Regions from separate parts of the Homo sapiens genome. Here region 2 is linked to region 1. Evidence: fine-mapped expression QTL. A gene starts in region 1. The other region holds a variant in brackets. All regions are shown on one strand. Distances are between the middles of the regions.

Region 1 (5,364 bases):
GCTTCTACTGTACAGATGGGGAAACTGAGACCAGGCCTGGGACTGTTTCCCTGAATGCTTGCCACAGCTTGTGGGGATATGCGCCTGAAGACCCAGTGCCTCCTTCCCTCGGCTGGGGCAGTGGGCCTGGCTGAGGTTCCAGGACTGCGGCCCCTCTTCCCTCTGCCCAAACCCCCGGGCCCAGGGCCTCCAGGAAGCCTCCTCTGCCTGTTGTTCACCCCAAGCTGTGTGGTTGCAACTTGAGCTGTTTCCAGGCCTTCCTCCCATGACTCTGTTGAAGTCATTCTCGGTCCTTGGCCTTTGAGATCATCAACCCTGGACTGGGATCCCGGCCAGCCCCAGCTGGTCCCCAGGGCCATCACTGCCTGTAGTCATGAGACAGTGGTTGCCCGTGTCCCACGGACCGACACACCCAGCCCTCAGTGTTTCTTGCATGGTTCAGGAAGGTAGACAGAATTCCTTCTCACCCATGACCTAGTTGGGAGTGCCATTGTCCCCAGATGCCGGCCCCCTCCTCTCCCGTGCTTTAGAGGGGCCTAGTCCTTCCCTGAGTCCAGTGTTCTCGGGAACTTTGACTCCTGGTGCCCACAGAAGGCTGCATGCAGAGAGGCAGTGCACTGTGCCCAACAGAGGCTGTGATGGCCATCACTGTCCCCACCACACTCTATGAAGCTCTAGGGCAGGCATGGCCAGGCCACCCACAGCTGGGTCTGAGCCCAGCTGGGCCCCTCTGCCTTCATGGCCACCCGGTCTGCACTCTCTGCTGTGGTGTGGCTGGGAGCACTGTACTTAAGGGCTTGCACAAGGCCGCCATGTCCACCCCAGCAATTGTGGGAAGTGGTGAGCGGAGGCAGGGGTGCCCCCATGGTGCAGCTAGGAAAAGAGGCCCCAGAAGGGGAGTGGAGTGCCCATGAGAGGGGGAGGGGCCACCTGGAAGACAGGATTCCTGGGCTAGGTTTGGGTCAGTGGAGAGCAAACTTGGCTGCTGGTGCCCTCGAGGCTTGAACAAAACAGGGAGCCCCAGTCCTCAGGCGGGCCTGTGGCAGTGGAGTGGGAAAGGGCTCTGTGTATCCAGAGGCGCCTTCTAGAACTGGTGGAGGGGCGAGGGGCAGGCATGGGTGGGGCCTTTAGTTCTGAGGCCATCGCTTCCCCCTTCAGGTGCCCTAGACACCAGGGGTCAGCACTGATACTTGGCCTGGATGTGACTGGATGCCATGTCCCCCATCCTGGTGTCCAGATTCCCACCATAACAGAAAAGGCTGGGCTGAAGCCAGCACAGGGCAGTGCCCCCATGACCTCCAGCCCCTGGAGCTGGGCAGGCCAGATGCCTCCTTCTCAGTGCACCTCATCTGAGTCTCCTCCTTAGAGCAGCTGGAGGGCTGGGAAGAGCAGGGATCAGGTTCTCCCAGCCACTAGTCCTCGTCCTGCCCCCTAGGGGTGAGTCCATCAGGGCCCTCCGCAGACCTTCCCCACCCACAGGCGAGATGACCCAGAGAGGGGAAGGCCCGGGTCCCTGCATACAGCACTGGCTGTGTCGGAAGGGCCCCCTGGTCTCGGTCCCTTTCCCCTGGCCCAGGGTGTAGGGATGGGAGATGGGGAGGGGACACAGATGCTGTGGGGGCGTGGAGTCCCACAGGGCTGTTTCTCCATCTGTGACACACATGCCTTTACTGGGCCAGGGGGAACTGACGACTGCAACCCTCTCCCCAGCACCCTTGTACCCGGGCTCCCCAGCCCCCCCCGGAGCTCTGGGCTTGGCATCTCCAGCTCCTCAGCAAAGGGGCAGGGCCTGGACGATGGCCTTCCCTTGCCGCAGGACCACTGCTTCTCAGAGGCCAGAACAGCCTTCCTGCTGCCCGGCCCCTGGCCAGAGTCCCTGTCGGCCCCCAGCAAACTCGCTGCCCCAGCTCACCCCTCAGTCCGTGCCCAACAGACCCTACCACGTCCCAGTCCGTGGGGCCCGCCTTTGCCCCCCGTGACAGCCGGGTCGGGCCCGGGCCACCTCTCATCTCCAGCCCTGGGCCGTTAGGCCTGTCCTCAAGACCCCCGGGGCCCCGGATCCCACCTGGTGCGGAGAAGGCGCTTGGGCTCGCTGGGTGCGTGGAACTGGGCCGGCCGTCGGGTCTGGACTCCAGGCGGGGGCGGGGCGTGGCGGCCGGGCCTTACAAGGCAGAAGAATGTGCGCGGGGCGGGGCCGCGGGCGGGGTGCGGGGGCCCTCGGCTGCCGTCCGGCCTTATTTGGCCTCGACCCACGGGCTGGCAGGCGGGGGCGCTCTGGGGTGAGCCCCCCTTCCTTGCTGTGCCAGCCCGGGCTGCACAGAGGGCCTTGTAGGGAGGGGAGGTGATGGGGTGAGCAGGCAATGGGAGAGGGGGTGTGGGGGTTCGCTCTGGGCCACCCCTTCCCCTCCAGAGAGGCAAACGGAATGTCCAGGGCCGCTTCCCCAGAGGCCTCCCACTTGTATGGGCCGTGGGAGTGCAGCTTCCCCTGACGGGCAACGGCTCTCGACGTGGGGAGGGCAGAGGCGGTGGGTGGGGGGGCTCCCAGGGACCCCTACGCCCGGTGACTCGCTCTGTCCACATCAGCGGTCGCCCGCCAGAGCGGGGTTGAAGGAACCACTCGGGAAGCACTGGTTTCGTGGAGGGAAACACGATGAACAAGTAGCTCCGCGGCCTGGGGCCTCAAAGGAGAAGGGGACCTGGGGGGAGCGTGGGCTGTTCCGCAGGGTGCTCTGGGCAGTGACATTGGGCAGACAGGAGGTGCAGGGGTGCGCCCCGCCGTGAGGGCTCCCGGGCTTGGGGTCGCCGGCAGCAGGAGGTCAGGAGGATGGGGGCGGGAGCCGGAGGGGCTGAGAAGCAGCAGGGACCCCTCTGTGGCTCCCTGTAGGCCATGTGGGGTGTCGGAGGGTTCCGAGCAGGGGGTGACGACCTGGCTTGGGTTTTGACGGAATCCTTCTGGGTGATGTGTTGAAAATAGCGCAGAGGGGGCCGAGTCCACGAGCAGGGGACCTGTGAGGAGCGACCCAGCAAGGATCAGGCTGATCCGGACTAGCGGGGAGGCCGAGGGACAAGTGCTAAAACTATTTCCGAGGTGCAGCCGGTAGGATCTGCTGGGGCATGGGAATGGGTGTGAAAGAAAAGAGTTAGGGTGGACTCTCAGAGTTTTGATGTGAGCAACGAGAAAGAGCTGCCATTTTCTATGATGGGTTTGCTGTGTGGAGCAGTTTGGGGATAAGAAACTCTATTTTGGACAGATTAATTTTTAAAAACTTTATTTTGAAATGATTTCAGACTTAGGATAAAGTTAGAAGAACTGTGCAAAGAACCCTGTATAGCTTCATCTAGATTCTCCATTTGTTACCATTGGGTTTTATTATATTTTCTTCTTGCTTTCCATATACATATACATATATATAATACATGTACATACATTTATATTTATTTATTCCTACCCCCAACCATTTGAGAGTTTCTTGCATACGTATGTCCTGTTATCTCTACATGTTTCAGTGAGTACCTCCTAAAAAGGAGATTCTCTTAAATATGCATAGTACAATGATAAAAGTCAGGACAATTTTCACATTGATTTAATTACCTAATTTACAGTCCATATTCAGGTTGTGCCAGTTATCCCAATAATGTCCTTTAGAGGAATTTTTTCTGGTCTAGGAGCCAAAGTAAGATCATTTGTCATCACATTTCTTCAGTGTCCCAGTTTTACATTTTATTTTTTGATTGTGGTAAAATATACATAACATAAAATTACCATTTTCAGCGTGTTTTTTTTTTTTTTTTTTTTTTTGAGATGGAGTCTCCCTCTGTCGCCCAGGCTGGAGTGCAGTGGCGCCATCTCAGCTGACTGCAAGCTCCGCCTCCCAGGTTCATGCCATTTTCAGCATTTTTAAGTGTATAGTTTGGTGGCATTAAGTATATTCACTTTGTTTTGCAACCATCACCACCATCCATCTCCAGAGCACTTTCATCTTCCTCAGCCGAAACTCCCTGCCAGTTAAACACTAACTCCACCTTGCCCCCTTCTCCCCGCCCCTGGCAGTCATCATTCATCTTTCTGTTTTCTGTGAGTTTATCTACTTATTGGGGCCTCATGTAAGTGGAATCATATAGCATTCGACCTTTTGTCACTGGCTTATTTCACCCAGCATAATGTCCTCAAGCCCCAGGTTCATCCATGTTTAGTGTATATCAGAATTTCTTTTTGGGGGTGGGGGGTTGAGATAGGGTCTCACTCTGTCGCCGTGGGTGGCATGCAGTGGCACAATTATAGCTCACTGCAGCCTTGACCTCCTGGGCTCAAGCAATCCCCCTGCTTTGACCCCCTCAAGTAGCTAGGGCTGCAAGCATGCACCAGCACACCCGGCTAAGTTTTCTTTTTTTTTTTTGAAACGGAGTCTCGCTCTGTCACCCAGGCTGGAGTCCAGTGGCGCGATCTCGGCTCACTGCAAGCTCTGCCTCCCGGGTTCATGCCATTCTCCTGCCTCAGCCTTCCGAGTAGCTGGGACTACAGGCGCCCGCCACCATGCCCGGCTAATTTTTTTTTTTTGTATGTTTAGTAGAGACGGGGTTTCACCGTGTTAGTCAGGATGGTCTCGATCTCCTGACCTCATTATCTGCCCGCCTCAGCCTCCCAAAGTGCTGGGATTACAGATGTGAGCCACTGCGCCCGGCCCACACCTGGCTAAGTTTTCTACTTTTGTAGAAACAGGGTCTCCCTGTGTTGCCCAGCCTGGTCTCAAACTTCTAGCCTCAAGCAGTCGTCCTGCCTGGACCTCCCAAAGTGCTGGGATTATAGGCCTGAGCCACTGTGCTTGGCCCCGGCTAATTTTTTAAAAAATTCTTTTTGTAGAAGTGGGATTTTGCCATGTTGCCCAGGCTCTCGTCCTTTTTAAGGCTGAATAATATTCCATTGTTTGCATAGTTTGTTTATCTACTCATCATGGATGGACACTTGGGTTGCTTCCACTTTTTGGCTATTCTGAATAATGCTTCAGTGAACATGGGTCTCTTCAAGTTCCTGCTATTGTTTTTTTAACCTGACATTGTGAACATATAAGTCTCTGTTTTCAATTCTTTTGGGTATGTGCCCAGAAATGGAATTGCTGGATCAAATGGTTATTCTATTTTTAACATTCCGAGGAACTGCAATAACTGTTTTCTGTAGTGGCTGTACCATTTTAAATTCCCATCAACAGTGTACAAGGGGCCTGGTGTGGTTGCTCTTGCCTGTAATCCTAGCACTTTGGGAGGCCTAGACAGGTGGATCACTTGATGCCAGGAATTTGAGACAAGCCTGGCCAGCATGGTGAAATCTTGTTCTCTACGAAAAATACAAAAATTAGCCAGGTGTGG
Region 2 (5,364 bases), 25 kb before region 1:
GATTAAAGTTGTGAGCCACCATGCCCCGCCTCTGGAGTAGCACTTTTAATTTCACTCAAGAACAATTGGCTGGGCGCGGTGGCTCACACCTGTAATCCCAGCTACTGGGGAGGCTGAGGCGGGAGAATTGCTTGAATCTGGGAGGCAGAGGTTGCAGTGAACTGAGATCACGCCACTGCACTCCAGCCTGGGCGACAGAGCAAGACTCTGTCTCAAAACAAACAAACAAAAACTATCTGGCTAGGTCTGGTGGCTCATGCCTGTAATCCCAACACTTCGGGAGGCCGAGGCAGGGGAAGGTCTCTTGAACCCAGGAGTTTGAGGCCAGCCTGAGCAACATAGCAAGACCCCCTCTCAACAAAAAATAATCAGCTGGGCATGGTGGCGAATGCCTGTAGTCCCAGCTACTTGGGAGGCTGAGGTGGAGGAAGGCTTGAGCCCAGGAGGTTGAGGCTGTGGTGAGGTATAATTGTGCCACTGTACTCCAGCCTGCGTGAAAGAGTGAGACCCTGTCTCAAAAATTGGCCAGGCGCAGTGGCTCATGCCTGTAACCTGAGCACTTTGGGAGGCCAAGGCAGGTGGGATCACTTGAGGTCAGGAGTTCGAGACCACCCTGGCCAACATGGTGAAAGCCCATCTGTACTAAAAAGAAAAAAAAAATACAAAAATAAATAAAGAAAAAGGTGCTATTTCAGTGAACACAGTAATAAGAAAGGGAACAGCCTTATTGCTGATATGGAGAAAATTTGAGTGGTCTAGATAGATGATCAGACCAGCGACAACGTTCCCTTAAACCAAAGCCTAATCCAGAGCATAAGCCCTAACTGTCTTCAATTCTCTGAAGGCTGAGAGAGCTGAGGAAGCTGCTGAAGAAAAGTTGGAAGCTATCAGGCTTCAGTAGGCTTTTTTTTTTCTTTTTTTTTTTTTTTTTGAGACGGAGTCTTGCTCTGTCGCCCAGGCTGGAGTATAGAGGCATGATCTTGACTCACCACAACCTCTGCCTCCCGGTTTAGGCGATTCTCCTGCCTCAGCCTCCCGAGTAGCTGGGATTATAGGCGCAGGCTACCACGCCCAGCTAATTTTTCGTATTTTTAGTAGAGATGGGGTTTCACCATGTTAGCCAGGCTGGTCTCGAACTCCTGACCTCAAGTGATCTGCCCACCTCGGCCTCCCGAAGTGTTGGGATTACAGGCGTGAGCCACTGCACCCGGCCAATTTCTGTATTTTTAGTAGAGATGGCGTTCCACCATGTTGCCCAGCCTGGTTTCAAATTCCTGACCTCAGGTGATCCGCCTGCCTTGGCCTCCCAAAATGTTGGGATTACAGGTGTGAGCCACTGTGCCTGGCCTGGAATTTCTTTGATGAGAGCTATGCCTTGACAGTCTCATTTTTCCATTGTACTAGAAGGTCTGGGGCCCTGGGAGCTAGTGCGGCATGAAGGCCTGAGTGGGCTCTGTGCCTTGCTGACAGTGTTCCCAAGCTGAGTGGAGGAAGACTAAGGGTCTGGATATCCTCAACACTGAGTACATGAATTTCTGTGTAACCCTTCTGTTGTTGCTGTCTTCTCCTCTCCTGTGCCTGGTGTTCATCTGTCCAGGACCTTCTGTATTCTTTGGATAATAAATTTCTGATCTCTTGTCGGGTCTAGGTTGCAGCCTTCATAGGATCTAGGAGTCCACTGCTTTTTTTTCTTTTTTCTTTTTCTGAGACAGAGTCTCGCTGTGGTGCAATCTCTGCTCACTGCAACATCCGCCTCTCAGGTTCCCGTGATTCTCATGTCTCAGCCTCCCAAGTAGCTGAGATTACAGGCGCCCGCCACCACACCTAGCTAATTTTTGCATTTTTAGTAGAGACATGGTTTCGCTGTGTTGCCCAAGCTGGTCTTGAACTCCTGAGCTCAAGTGATCCACCTGCCTCGGCCTCCCAAAGTGTTGGGATTAAAGAATAGAGATAAGGGAGGCACAGAGGGGCTAAGTAACACCTGAGGTTATAAAACTGGTCATTGGAGGAGGTAGGATTTTATTCCTGAAAGGTTAATGGTAATATTATCGTCTCCATTTCTGACTCTAGTAATTTCAAGTCTTTTTTCTTTTTTTCTTGGTCAGTCTAGCTGAGGGTTTGTCAGTTGCTTTGACTTTTTTCAAAGAACCAACTTTTGGTTTTATCAATTTTCTCTATTGTTTTTCTGTTCTCTATTTCATTCATTTCTGCCCCAGCATTTATTGTTTCTTTCCTTTTGCTTACTCCTGCTTTTGCTCTTCTTTTCTAATTTTTCTGGTATCTTAAAGTGGAAGGTTAGATTATTGATTTACAATCTATATTTATTTATTTACTTTTTTCTTTTCTTTTGAGACAGAGTCTAGCTCTGTCCCCCAGGCTGGAGTGCAGTGGCGCAATCTAGGCTCACTGCAAGTTCCGCCGCCATGGTTCACGCCATTCTCCTGCCTCAGCCTCCCGAGTAGCTGGGACTACAGGCACCCGCCACCACACCTGGCTAATTTTTTGTATTTTTAGTAGAGACGGGGTTTCACCGTGTTAGCCAGGATGGTCTCAATCTCCTGACCTCGTGATCCGCCTGCCTCAGCCTCCCAAAGTGCTGGGATTACAGGCGTGAGCCACCGTGCCCGGCCTACAATCTTCATTTTTTTTTTAAATAGGCACATATGGGCCAGGTGTGGTGGCTCATGCCTGTAATCCCAGCATTTTGGGAGGC[C/T]GAGGTTGGGCGGATCACCTGAGGTCAGGAGTTCAAGACCAGCCTGGCCAACATAGTGAAACCTCGCCTCTAAAAATAGAAAATTAGCTGGGCATGGTAGCACATGCCTGTAATCCCAGCTACTCAGGAGGCTGAGGCAGGAGAATCGCTGAAACCTGAGAGGCAGAGGTTGCAGTGAGCCCAGCCTGCGCCATTGCACTCCAGCCTGGGTGACAGAGCAAGACTTTGTCTCAAAAAAAAATTAATAAATAAAAAATAATAAAAAAAATAGGCACATATGGCCAGGCATGGTGGCTCATACCAGCACTTTGGGAGGCTGAGACGCGGGTCGCTTGAGCTCAGGGGTTTGAGACCAGCCTGGGCAATGTAACAAGACCCCATCCCTACGAAAAATAAAAAATTAAGCCAGGTGTTGGTGGCTTTTGCCTGTAGTTTCAGCCATTCCAAAGGCTGAGGTGGGAGGATTGTTTGAGCCCAGGGGTGTGAGGCTGCAGTGAACCCTGATTGCATGACTGCACTCCAGTGTGGGCAATAAAGCGAGACACTGTCTCAAAGGAATAAAAAGGCATTGATAGCTATGAATTTTCCTTCAAGCACTGCTTTAGCTGCATTTCATAAGTTTTAAGCCTTTTTATTCATTTCATAATATTTTCTAATTCCCCTTTGGATTTCTTCTTCGAATCATTCATTATTTAGAGTATGTTGTTTAATTTCCACATATTTCACATATTTGTGAGTTTCCCATGTTTCCCAAATTTCTAATTTCATTATAGTGTCCTCAGAGAACACACTTTGTATTATTTGAGTCCTTTTAAATTAATTGAGGTTTGTTTTATGACCTAGCATATGGTCTTTCCTGGAGAATGTACCATGTCCACTTAAGAATAATGTGGCCCTGGCATGGTGGCTTATGCCTGTAATCCCGGCACTTTGGGTGGCTCAGGTGGGAGGATCCCTTTAGCCCAGGAGTTGGAGACCAACCTGGACAACGTAGTGAGACCCCATCTCTACAAAAAATAAAAAAATTAGCTTGGGTGGGGCATGCCTATACTCCAAGCTACTTGGGAGGCTGAAGTGGGAGATCACCTGAGCCTGGGAAGTTGAGGCTGCGGTGAGCTGTGATCACGCTTCTCCACTCCAGCCTGGTTGACAGAGCAAGATCCCATCTCAAAAAAATGAAAAAAGAAGAAAGAATGGTATTCTGTGGTTGTAGGGTGCCGTGTTCTGTAGATGGGTGTTAGGTCTACGTGGTTGGTAGTGTTCTGTGGTTGTGGGGTGCAGTGTTCTGTAGATGGGTGTTAGGTCTATGTGGTGGGTAGTGTTGTATTCTGTGGTTGTAGGGTGTGGTGTTCTGTAGACGGGTGTTAGGTCTAGGTGGTGGGTAGTGTTGTATTCTGTGGTTGTGGGGTGCAGTGTTCTGTAGACGGGCGTTAGGTCTAGGTGGTGGGTAGTGTTGTATTCTGTGGTTATGGGGTGCAGTGTTCTGTAGACGGGTGTTAGGTCTAGGTGGTGGGTAGTGTTGTATTCTGTGGTTGTAGGGTGCAGTGTTCTTTAGATGGGCGTTAGGTCTAGGTGGTGGGTAGTGTTGTATTCTGTGGTTGTAGGGTGCAGTGTTCTTTAGATGGGCGTTAGGTCTAGGTGGTGGGTAGTGTTGTATTCTGTGGTTGTGGGGTGCAGTGTTCTGTAGACGGGCGTTAGGTCTAGGTGGTGGGTAGTGTTGTATTCTGTGGTTATAGGGTGCAGTGTTCTGTAGACGGGTGTTAGGTCTAGGTGGTGGGTAGTGTTGTATTCTGTGGTTGTAGGGTGCAGTGTTTAGATGGGCGTTAGGTCTAGGTGGTGGGTAGTGTTGTATTCTGTGGTTGTAGGGTGCAGTGTTCTTTAGATGGGCGTTAGGTCTAGGTGGTGGGTAGTGTTGTATTCTGTGGTTGTGGGGTGCAGTGTTCTGTAGATGGGTGTTAGGTCTAGGTGGTGGGTAGTGTTGTATTCTGTGGTCGTGGGGTGCGGTGTTCTGTGGACGGGCGTTAGGTCTAGGTGGTGTAGGGTGCAGTGTTCTGTAGATCGGTGTTAGGTCTGGGTGGTTGGTAGTGTTGTCGTGTGTTCAAGTCTTCTGTTTCCCTATTGATCTTCTGCCTACTTGTTCTATCTGTTATTGAAAGTGGGAATTGAAGTCCAACTATGACTGTTGAGTTGTTTCCTCCCTTCATTTCTGTCAGCCTTTGTTTCCTGTATTTTGGTGCTCTGCTGTTTCCGTATATGTTTAAAACTTTACCTGTTTCTGATGGAATGACCTTTTTAAAATTATAAAATATCCTGCTTTAGTAGGAAATAGTATCTTAGACCCAGACAATCTTGACTCTTGAGCCTGTGCTCTTATGCCCATCCCAACTGCCCTGTCCCTGAAGGTGTGTCCTCTGGTATTTCTCCACCTCCTATATCCTCATTCATTTTGGATTCATCTAAGTGATCTTTGTCAACTTGGTCTTCCTGCTCTGGATCTTGATAAGACCAGTTGAAATTTTATTCCATACTCTGAGGAAGTCCTCAGCCCTTTGCCAGATGCCTGTAGATTCCTAGTAGTTCCCATTCTCCATCATCTTGGCCTCTGGGGCCTGCTTGCCTACAGCCTACCCTGGTGCTGTGTAGTTGCTATG

Which allele goes with the higher level. Positions count from the first base shown, and alleles are read on the strand shown. Sizes are in standard deviations (SD) of each study's normalised expression.
For the expression in whole blood of the gene that starts at base 2,108 in region 1, allele T in region 2 goes with a lower level than allele C (moderate effect, 0.44 SD a copy in Lepik 2017).

The links. PIP is the estimated chance that this variant, and not a neighbour inherited with it, causes the effect. A credible set is the group of variants that fine-mapping cannot tell apart.
Region 2: its variant is the best candidate, but not a certain one, in a credible set for the expression of MYL9 in whole blood (Lepik 2017, PIP 0.71).

What each region holds. Positions count from the first base shown.
Region 1 is chr20:36,538,263-36,543,626 of GRCh38, reverse strand. It overlaps MYL9 (myosin light chain 9), which reads right to left and starts at 2,108. Exons shown (of 4, transcript NM_006097.5): 1 at 2,066-2,108. All of the region lies in intron 2 of DLGAP4-AS1 (DLGAP4 antisense RNA 1), which reads left to right. RefSeq lists enhancers at 1-653, 654-1,307 and a silencer at 2,088-2,287.
Region 2 is chr20:36,563,634-36,568,997 of GRCh38, reverse strand. The region is part of intron 2 of DLGAP4-AS1 (DLGAP4 antisense RNA 1); the gene reads left to right. Among named protein-coding and RNA genes, the nearest start is that of DLGAP4-AS1, 7.0 kb to the left of the region's middle. The variant C/T (reference allele first, on the strand shown) is at 2,714.